Homo sapiens: one gene and its partners. The protein of the gene in region 1 purifies or fractionates together with the protein of each later gene. This does not show direct contact. Each region holds a gene or a part of one and is shown in the gene's direction. Other genes may lie near its edges.

Region 1 (2,441 bases):
AAGGAAGGGCCCCTTATAAAACCATCAGATATTGTGAGAACTCACTCACTATCACTAGAACAGCATGGAGGGAAACTGCCCCCATGATCCAATCACCTCCCACCAGGTGTCTCCCTAGACACATGGGGATTATGAGGATTACAATTCATGATGAGATTTGGGTGGGGACACAGCCAAACCATATCAGTAAAGTCTTAGGTTACAAAATCAGTGGTACAAATCAGTAGCACTATTATATACCAACAGTGACCAAGCTGAGAATCAAATCAAGAACTCAACCCCTTTTACAATAGCTGTAAAATAATTAATAATAATAATAGTAATAGCAATAAATTACCTAGGAATATACTTAGCCAAGAAGGTAAAAGATCCCTACAGGGAGAACTACAAAACACTGTTGAAAGAAATCATGCATGACACAAATGGAAATACATCCCATGCTCATGGATTGGAAGAATCAATATTATGAAAAAGACCTTACTGCCCAAAGCAGTCTACAGATTCAGTGCATTTCCTATCAAAATACCAACATCATTTTTCACAAAATTAGAAAAAAATCCTAAAAGTCACATAGAACCAAAAAAGAGCATATGTAAATACATGTGTGTGTGCACATGTGTGTGTGTGTGTGTGTGTATATGTGTGTGTATGTGATATTGAGACAAAGTTTTATCACTTAAAGAACTAAGATTTAGGTACTTCATTAATTTACTTACATGAACACCTAATTCCTTAATAATGTTAGATAATGTTTCTCTAATATCACAGACCTGTTTTTCACAAATTTTACGCATTGATAATATAAAAATCTGTTAAAGGAAGAAAATTTTTCTTCTAAGTAGCTTCTTTTTCTGAGTTCAGTCTATTACTGCAATACAATATTTATAAACCTATTGGCAGTTTGCCCCAGTAAAAGTAGTACAAGATATTTACAGGAATATCTTAATTCAGAATTAAAGTAATGATAATTGTTTGCTTTATATAATATGTTAGTTCTTCTGATCTTAGAGTAACCCACTCCTTTGGGTCATATATTCTTATTCATATTTATCTATCTACGTTTACGTCATGTTATTTGCAGTATAGTAGGATAGTTTCTTGGTGTATGTACAGTCTCTAAAGTCTAAGTATTTTTTGGAATATCTAGGGACATGAAACTCATGCATAAAAATCAATTATAAAATAGTACATGATTTAGAATCAAATACTAAATTGTGTTGTTTAAATTATGAGTGTTACATAGAAATTTAGAAATGGGAAAGATTAACATGGGCTGAAATAGAGATGATGTTGAAGAACACAGAAGTGGAACTGGATCCTACATAGACATAGTTGGGCATGTCTTTCTTGGGAAATGTGGTTGTGTGGTATACATTGGCCTTTCAATGTGGCCATTACCGATGTGTACAGTTCAAAGTTTGGAGTTTCCCTGTTTGTCTTATTCTGTATCTCCACAGTGATTTGAACAGCACTGAGCATGTAACAGATGCAAGATCACTACTTGGATTAAAAATCAATGAAGAAAGTGTATAATACTACATATGATATATAAATGTATGTTTTATGGCATAATATTAAAAGCTAGGTTCTTTCATGACATATGACTACAAAATAACAGGGCTGATTATTAATATACATACCAGAACTTCTTATGCACCGAAGTGAGTGGCATTCACCTTCAAAGTCATCATCATGGAAGCCTGCATACTCTTCTCCATAACACTGTCATTTCTCAAAATATTTTTGGAACTCCTTTTTTGAATTTCCTTCAGAGAGTCTATGACTCATTCTTTTCAGTATCCTCAGAGTCTTTTTCAGCTAAGAGTGAATTTGGTTTTTGGAAGCAGAAGTCACGATAGGGCCAGGGATGGCGAGTAAAAGGATCTGCTGAGAAATGCTACTTTGGATGACTATAAGTAATGAGTATTTTTCCTAGCTTGACTCATAAAATAACCAAAGGCAATTATCTTCTTAAAACAAAAAGTAAGTTGCAAGTTTTATCATTTTAAAACCAAGCCTGAGCTGGGTGCAGTGGCACATCCCAGCTACTGAGGAGGTCAAGGCAGGAGGATCTCTTGAGCCCAGAAGTTTGAGACCTTGTGTCAAAAAAAATAAGAAGAAGAAGAAGAAGAAAAGAAAACCAAATCTGGATTACTCTTACATAACTGTCCTACTCCAGAATTGATCATGGCTTCCTGCTTTTGGGGCCCCACCAGGCCTATTCAGCCTTACTTCCCGCCCCCTACCACAGTCATCTTCTTTATTAAGCATTTAGTAAAATGGAGGATAGAATGGTTAATTTAACCTTTATTCAGTCTTGTCACATTCTTGAGTGATCTCTGCAAGTGTTCATGATTATTGTAGCACTCAGTAGCTGGCAAAGATGTAAAAAGTTAGAGTGAATATACCTGGAACATATTCTGAAAATCTGTTTGTTGGCA
Region 2 (3,663 bases), on another chromosome or scaffold:
AGTTCTAGGAAACAACCTTTAATTACCTTGCAAAAGGAAGAATATTTTATAAATATAGATAGTAGCCTTTTAAAGACATTTTTTAGTTTTCCCTAAGTTGTGTATATCCCATAGAGTAAAGCATTGAGCCATTGATTGTCATTAAAGCCTAAAAAGAGTTTGATTCTAGGTGTTTCCTAACACTGCCTCTTTCCCATTCCTTCTTCTCAGACAATAGAATCTAATTGGAGATGTGGAAGACATAGTTTACAGAGAATTCACTGCCGAAGTGAAACAAGCAAAGGAGTTTACTGTTTACAGTATGATGATCAGAAAATAGTAAGCGGCCTTCGAGACAACACAATCAAGGTGAGGTCTATTCAGTTGTAGAAAGGTAGCAGAGGGAGCAAGAGTGACCACATTCATAGCGCAGTCTAAAGCATAAACTCTAAGCATTATTTCTAGAAAGTAAGTGAAGATTTTAGATTGTTTCCAGTCCCAAAGCCAAAATCATTTCCTTAAAGGACAGACATCAGCTTCCCCACTATACAAACGGGTAGTCCTAGGGTTAAATTCTCTTCTTGAAATGCACTGAATGGGCTGTTACTCTTTTGGCCATCACATAATTATAGACTACCCTGTTCCTTAATGAAAAGGATAAAAGTTTGCATTAGTACTGAAGCTATATGTGTGTGTGTGTGTGTGTGTGTGTGTGTGTGTGTGTGTGCGCGTGTGCGCGCGCGCGCGCTTAGCTATACCTATAGAAAATGCATTCCACACTACTCTGGGCTTTGATTATTTTGGGGGATCAGACACGTAATAGGACCAACAAGTCTCCACAGCACCCCATCATCACATTGATCAAAAGGATCTTATTTGCCATCCTAGATCTGGGATAAAAACACATTGGAATGCAAGCGAATTCTCACAGGCCATACAGGTTCAGTCCTCTGTCTCCAGTATGATGAGAGAGTGATCATAACAGGATCATCGGATTCCACGGTCAGGTAGAAAATTTCAAATGCTTTTTTGAACTCTGAAATATCAGCTCTGCTCTGTTCTTTGTCATAGATAGTAATTTTGTATATATCGGCACAGTTCTGAAACTAAAGAAGAATAAACCACCAGGTCCCCATCATTTCTGTCAGTCTAGAACTAGAAAACTTGATTTAGAAATGCTTGAGGTAAGTTTACATTTTCGCACATTGAAGAAACTACACATTCTATTTTAATTTGGAGGATCATCTATTACAGAAACTTTTCTTATCCTTATGGTAAACTTTGCATTCCTTACAAAAACCACCTCACGGGGGAATGATATGAATGCAATGAAGCCTTCCTTTCAGGTAGTGGTAACTGTAGTGCAGGTCTGTATTATCTCCTTTGAAACATGTACAGGTGAGCTGTGCTCTCTTTGCCAGCCCCTCCCCTGCCATCCCTGCAGTTTTTAATTGCAAGCTTCACTCAGGTAGGGGCCCTCAATTTCCAGAGGCATTAGTGATTTGATGACACAGCCATTATACTGCTGGAGTCCAGGATAGCTTGAGTTCTGGGTACCAGCAGCACTGCTGGGAACCTCTGTTAGGAATTTTGCCGTAAGCTAAAGGATTTAGCAAACATAATGCATCAAAAGTAACTTTAAAAAAAAAATAGACCTAGGAAAAAAGCGGTTAAGTGCATTGTTAGATACTCTGAAGTTAAATGTTTACCATTCCAAGTTATCCTCTGTGAATAGAAAAGACGGTTCCTGTTTTTTGTCTTTTGACTTAAAGGCATAGCAAGGCATAGCAAACTTGGCCCTTGTAGTTACTGACATTTAACATTTATTGGTGCTTGTGGAGTGAGTGCCCCACAGAATCTAAAACACTGCAGGTGCTAACATCATTTATAAGATAAAGAAAAAATGATATTCTATAAAAGGGGGCTAAACTGGAAAAAAGGAAATAACATGTTATAAAACCTTAAGTAAATACACAAAAATAGAATAATCAAAATATATAATCACACAAAATTCTCAAGCTATCCAAGGGCCCCACACTCTGCTGTGAAGCCCATATTTACAATGGGGGGTCTATTTTAAACCCCTACCCACTTCAGAACACAGAAATGGGGGCTTAGAATTAGAGTCATGGTTATCTTGGCCTTTGACCTTTATGATAAAACCTGAGATCCAGGGTAATCAAACTCAAATTCACATTACTAAGTATGTGACAGAAGCATCTTGGCCTATTTCATTTCTGGCTCCTGAGGGCTATCATTGGAATGGGCACTAATGCTATTGTTATTAATCAGATTCCTCATTTAAAATGTATCTTACTAATGGTATCAAATTGAATGTGAGAAGTTTTACAGTCTTCAAGTCTGGGCCAAATTATTAGGTGACAGTGGCTGCCACTTCATCCTTGCCCTCCACAACTTGCCCATATTTCAAGCAGTATGTCTTAAGGACACACTGGCAGCATCCCATCCCCTTCCTTCTCCCACTCTCCCAGTCTGGCCCTCTCTCTAAATATAAGGGGTGGAAGGGCGCATGATGGTCAAATATAGGTAACAGATTGTAGCTTGAGTACCATCTAAATCTCATCTATCACTTCCAGAGTGTGGGATGTAAATACAGGTGAAATGCTAAACACGTTGATTCACCATTGTGAAGCAGTTCTGCACTTGCGTTTCAATAATGGCATGATGGTGACCTGCTCCAAAGATCGTTCCATTGCTGTATGGGATATGGCCTCCCCAACTGACATTACCCTCCGGAGGGTGCTGGTCGGACACCGAGCTGCTGTCAATGTTGTAGACTTTGATGACAAGTACATTGTTTCTGCATCTGGGGATAGAACTATAAAGGTAATAAGGCATTTTTCAGTAAGTTTCCAACTTAGAATGGGGGAATTCATATGAAAATTTGATCAAGGGCAATTTCATATTTAAACGTTGCTACAGAAAAATGTAATATTTAATTCAGAGACTAGTCTACAAGTGAAAAGGTGTAATAAGTGAGACGTTGTGTGACAATTTATCCTAGATATTTTATTCCTATAAATAGTGGTGAGTGTGAGAAGAGACTAACCCTAGAAGAGTAAATCAATCTGAGGAATTCTCATGTGGTAACAGCCAACTGCAAATTAGCCTCTGTTACCATGAATTTAAATTGTCCTTTGTTTTATTTGTTTGAGAAGACTTCCCTCTAATGGTTCAGTCCTGTTTTCTGCTTCTCTAAGACTCCATTTGCCATAGATTTTACCAATAAAAGCACCAAATCAACTGCTCAATGCCATTTTCTTTTTCAGGTATGGAACACAAGTACTTGTGAATTTGTAAGGACCTTAAATGGACACAAACGAGGCATTGCCTGTTTGCAGTACAGGGACAGGCTGGTAGTGAGTGGCTCATCTGACAACACTATCAGGTGAGCAGCAAGTGCCTTGTATCATAAGGGATCAATATTATGCTCCCATTCATTATTAATGCACAGATCATACAAGTCTTCAATTTTGTTATGTTTATAATCAACTGTTTTTCCTTTCTGTAGCTTCTTACAGGTCAGAAGTTTGCCCCAGGCAGAGAAGCAGCACAGCAAAGCCTTTTGTTGCCCTTCTTTTTAAATTTCTCCTGTCTACCGTTGAAAAGTGCTAATAAACAGCTAACAGCCTTTTCTTTGCCATTGTTTTTAAGAAATGAAAA
Region 3 (3,663 bases), on another chromosome or scaffold:
ACGAAGGATGACCCCAGGGGACTCAGTGTGTTGAAACAGGAGAAACAGAAGGTTTGTTATAGGGAGTTAACAGACTTAGGAGTCTACTAGTGTCAATGGTTAAGTTAATGTAGATACCTAGCAGATAAGTGGTATTGTGAGTATGTTGTATGAAGTAGATAGAATTGAACTATGCCTAAAATTACAATAAAACTACAAAGCACTTAAAAATCATGCATACAAACTATTCTGTTCTAAAAAACTTCTGAACTTAACTAAAATCTATATAGTGAGCAGGACAGTATAAGTGTGAACATTATGAAGTTGCTGTAATTTTTTTCTTTGAGATTTGGGGAATATACTCTTTTTTTTTTTTTTTTTTTTTTTTTTTTGAGATGGAGTCTCGCTCTGTCACCCAGGCTGGAGTGCATGGCACAATTTCAGCTCACTGCAACCTCTGCCTCCCCGGTTCAAGGGATTCTCCCACCTCAGCCTCCTGAGTAGCTGGGAGTACAGGCACGTGCCACCATGCCTGGCTAATTTTTGTATTTTTTTGGTAGAGATGGGGTTTCACCATGTTGGCCAGGCTGGTCTCATTAAACTCCGACCTCAGGTGATCCACCTGCCTTGGCCTCCCAAAGTCCTGGGATTATAGGCGTGAGCCACCACATGTGGCAACCCCACAGTTTTAACAGATTGTTTATACTTTGATTTGGTTTTGCAGATGATATGCATACTAAGGCTTTAAAAAATTATCTAAATGTTTAATAATTTTTTGTTTTTGTGATTGGGAATTATTTACTTCTGGGAGTCATGATCCTAAAGAAACAGTAAATTGGCTGTTTAGAGTGGGAAAAAAAAACTTCAGGTAACTTTGTTACTTAAATCCTGTCTCTTAATTCATAGGTTAAGACCTTAATTTTGCCTCTCTCGGTTTATGACAGTACTCTTGACTTTAGCCTTTTAACTCCCTTTATGTGCGTTTTTATCCATCACTCCTGTTAGTTGTAAGAATGTAGGCCCACGTTTATGTCTTTTATCTCCTTTGTTCTTCCCAAGGCTTCTTTGCAAACTTTTTCTTGTATTTCCAATTCCTAGTTCCCTCTTTTTCTAATTAACCCCCAGTAAAAATACTTGGGATATTAGAACTGAAATTCTGATGGTTAAAAAAGAATACAGAAGTACAGTCATGCATCTGTTAAGGATGGGGATATATATTGAGAAATGTGTTGTTAGGTGATGTGTTGTATAAACATCATAGAGTGTACTTACAAAAACCTATATATGGTATTGCCTTTTGCTCCTAGGCTACAGACTTGTATAGCCTGTGGCTGTACTACAATGGTAAGTATTTGTGTATCGAAACAATCTACACTGAGCTTATTCAACCTGCAGCCTGCGGCCCACACGTGGCCCATGATGGCTTTGAATCCGGCCCACCTCAAATTCGTAAACTTTCTTAAAACACTATGAGTTTTTTTTTGTGTGATTTTTTTTTTTTAATAGCTCATTAGTTAGTGTTAGTGTTAGTGTATTTTATGTGTGGCCCAAGACAATTTTTCTTCCAGTGAGGCCCAGGGAAGCCAGAAGATTGGACACCCGTGACTATACACAGAAAAGGCGCAGCAAAAATATGGCATAAGAGATAAAATTGTATACTTGCATAGGGCACTTACTGTGAATGGATCTTGCAGAACTGGAAGTTGTTTTGGGTGGGTCAGTGAATGAGTGGTGAGTGAATGGGAAGGCCTAGGACATTACTGTACACTGTAGACTTTATAAACACTGTACACTTAGGCTACATTTATTAAAATTTTTTTCTTTAATCTTAGCTGTCCGTAACTTCATAAACTGTAAAATTAAAATTTTTGACATAAAGCACAAGCACAGTGTATAGATAAATAAAAATATCTTTTTAATGTCCTTATTCGCTGCCTTTTTCTATTTTTTAAATAAGATTTTTAAAAAAACTTCTTTTCTTAAGACTAAGACATAGCACACACATTAGTCTAGGCCTGCACAGGGGCGGGATCATCAGTATCACTGCCTTCCACCTCCACATCCTGTCTCACTGTAATGTCTTCAGGGACAGTAACACTCATGGAGCTGACATCTCCTATGTTAACAGTGTCTTCTGGAATACCTCCTGAAGGACCTGCTGGAGTCTGACTTAGAGTGTCCTTTTTGTTTTCGTAAGTAGAAGGAGTACACTCTAAAATAAATGATAAAAAGCATAACAGTAAATACATAAACCTGTAACATAGTCATTTATTACCAAGTATTCTGTATTGTACATAAATCATATGTGCAATACTTTTATATGACTGGAGTACAGTATGTATATTTACACCAGCATCACCACAAACGTGAATAATGTATTGTGATAAGACCTCACTAGGTAATAGGAATTTTTCAGTGCCATTATTATTGTATGGGAACACTATCATATGTATGAATCATTGTTGACCAAAACATCATTATACAGAACATGACTGGACAACTCAGATGGAGGATTACTGCAGATAGGCTAAATAATATAGTGGAAACTGGACAAGATTGGTTTATTGTTTTAGTTGATACACACCTTGACCTTCCAGCTTATTCTGAATTGCAGTGTTAAATGTAAGGTTACCATTCATCAATTTACTAAGAGTCACAGCATGTTGAATCTCTCTGGTGTGCTTGTTTCATGGTTCTCAGAACAACCAGTCTTTTCTTTCTGGACCAGTTTGAAGCAACTCTCAAGAAACAAGCTGTTTTATTGGAGCCAAACCTCACTAATAGAGGTCCTGGATGGAAGCATATACTTAAAGTTACACCTGCTTAATTTTTTCCATCAGGCTCTTCAGATTGTCACTCCATGCATGACTCAAAGCCCACCCTCCCATCACACTTCCCCCCATTACATATACATATATAGCATAACATATACATATGTAGCATATGTATATGTAAATAAATTAGATTTTCTTGCACCTGTTATGTATGTTCACTGGTTTGTAAGGGGCCTAGGTAGTATGTGATATAACTTATTGGGCACACTTTTGAAATGTGTTTCGGCTTCACTGTATTCTTTGCATTCTATTCTGTTTATGCTCCACATATTGGTTATCATTTCTTCTCCTTTTTGTTACAAAAGCAGTATAACATTTTTAAGAGAAATTCAACAACAAAAAAATCTAATTCTATTTGCTTAGATAAATTCTAATCTAATTCCAAGTCTAATTCTATTAGAATTAGAAAAATCTAAATCTAATTCCAATCTAGTTATCTTTTTATGGAATGTCTTCCTATGGACATGTTATTTAAAATTTGAAAGAATGGAAAGCTGCCCATCAAATGCTTAACAAAAGTGAAATGTTTAATTTTGGCAAGGCATAGAATAGAATATTTAATGACATGTCATTTAATAATAGTAATATAAATAATAGTTTTGTTGATTTGACAAGATTGTGAGAAATGACTTTTTCCCTTCCCTCCGTAATTTAAAATTTTATGCAATGTAAAGAATTTAAAAATAATCAGTTGTCGAGCTTGATGATTCTTTTAGTTTTTTTTCTCTTTGGTGTTGACCCCATGTATATCTTTTTTTCCCCCTTTTGGAGATAGGGTCTCACTCTCACCTGGGCTGGAGTGCAGTGGCACGATCTCGTCTCATTGCAACCTCCGCTTCCTGGGCTCAAG

The links.
Region 2: the proteins of STK3 (region 1) and BTRC purify together in Homo sapiens (affinity purification with mass spectrometry; 4 studies listed by BioGRID and IntAct, with this or other methods). This does not show direct contact.
Region 3: the proteins of STK3 (region 1) and VAPA purify together in Homo sapiens (affinity purification with mass spectrometry; 5 studies listed by BioGRID and IntAct, with this or other methods). This does not show direct contact.

The regions. Positions count from the first base shown.
Region 1 is NC_000008.11:98,456,310-98,458,750, reverse strand, and holds part of STK3 (serine/threonine-protein kinase 3), read left to right. Parts: intron 1-1,457; coding exon of another isoform or gene 1,458-1,460; exon of another isoform or gene 1,461-2,441. UniProt on the Homo sapiens protein: Stress-activated, pro-apoptotic kinase which, following caspase-cleavage, enters the nucleus and induces chromatin condensation followed by internucleosomal DNA fragmentation.
Region 2 is NC_000010.11:101,532,085-101,535,747, forward strand, and holds part of BTRC (F-box/WD repeat-containing protein 1A), read left to right. Parts: intron 1-210; coding exon 211-348; intron 349-867; coding exon 868-986; intron 987-2,576; coding exon 2,577-2,826; intron 2,827-3,269; coding exon 3,270-3,388; intron 3,389-3,663. UniProt on the Homo sapiens protein: Substrate recognition component of a SCF (SKP1-CUL1-F-box protein) E3 ubiquitin-protein ligase complex which mediates the ubiquitination and subsequent proteasomal degradation of target proteins. Recognizes and binds to phosphorylated target proteins.
Region 3 is NC_000018.10:9,945,008-9,948,670, forward strand, and holds part of VAPA (vesicle-associated membrane protein-associated protein A), read left to right. Parts: coding exon of another isoform or gene 1-51; intron 52-3,663. UniProt on the Homo sapiens protein: Endoplasmic reticulum (ER)-anchored protein that mediates the formation of contact sites between the ER and endosomes via interaction with FFAT motif-containing proteins such as STARD3 or WDR44.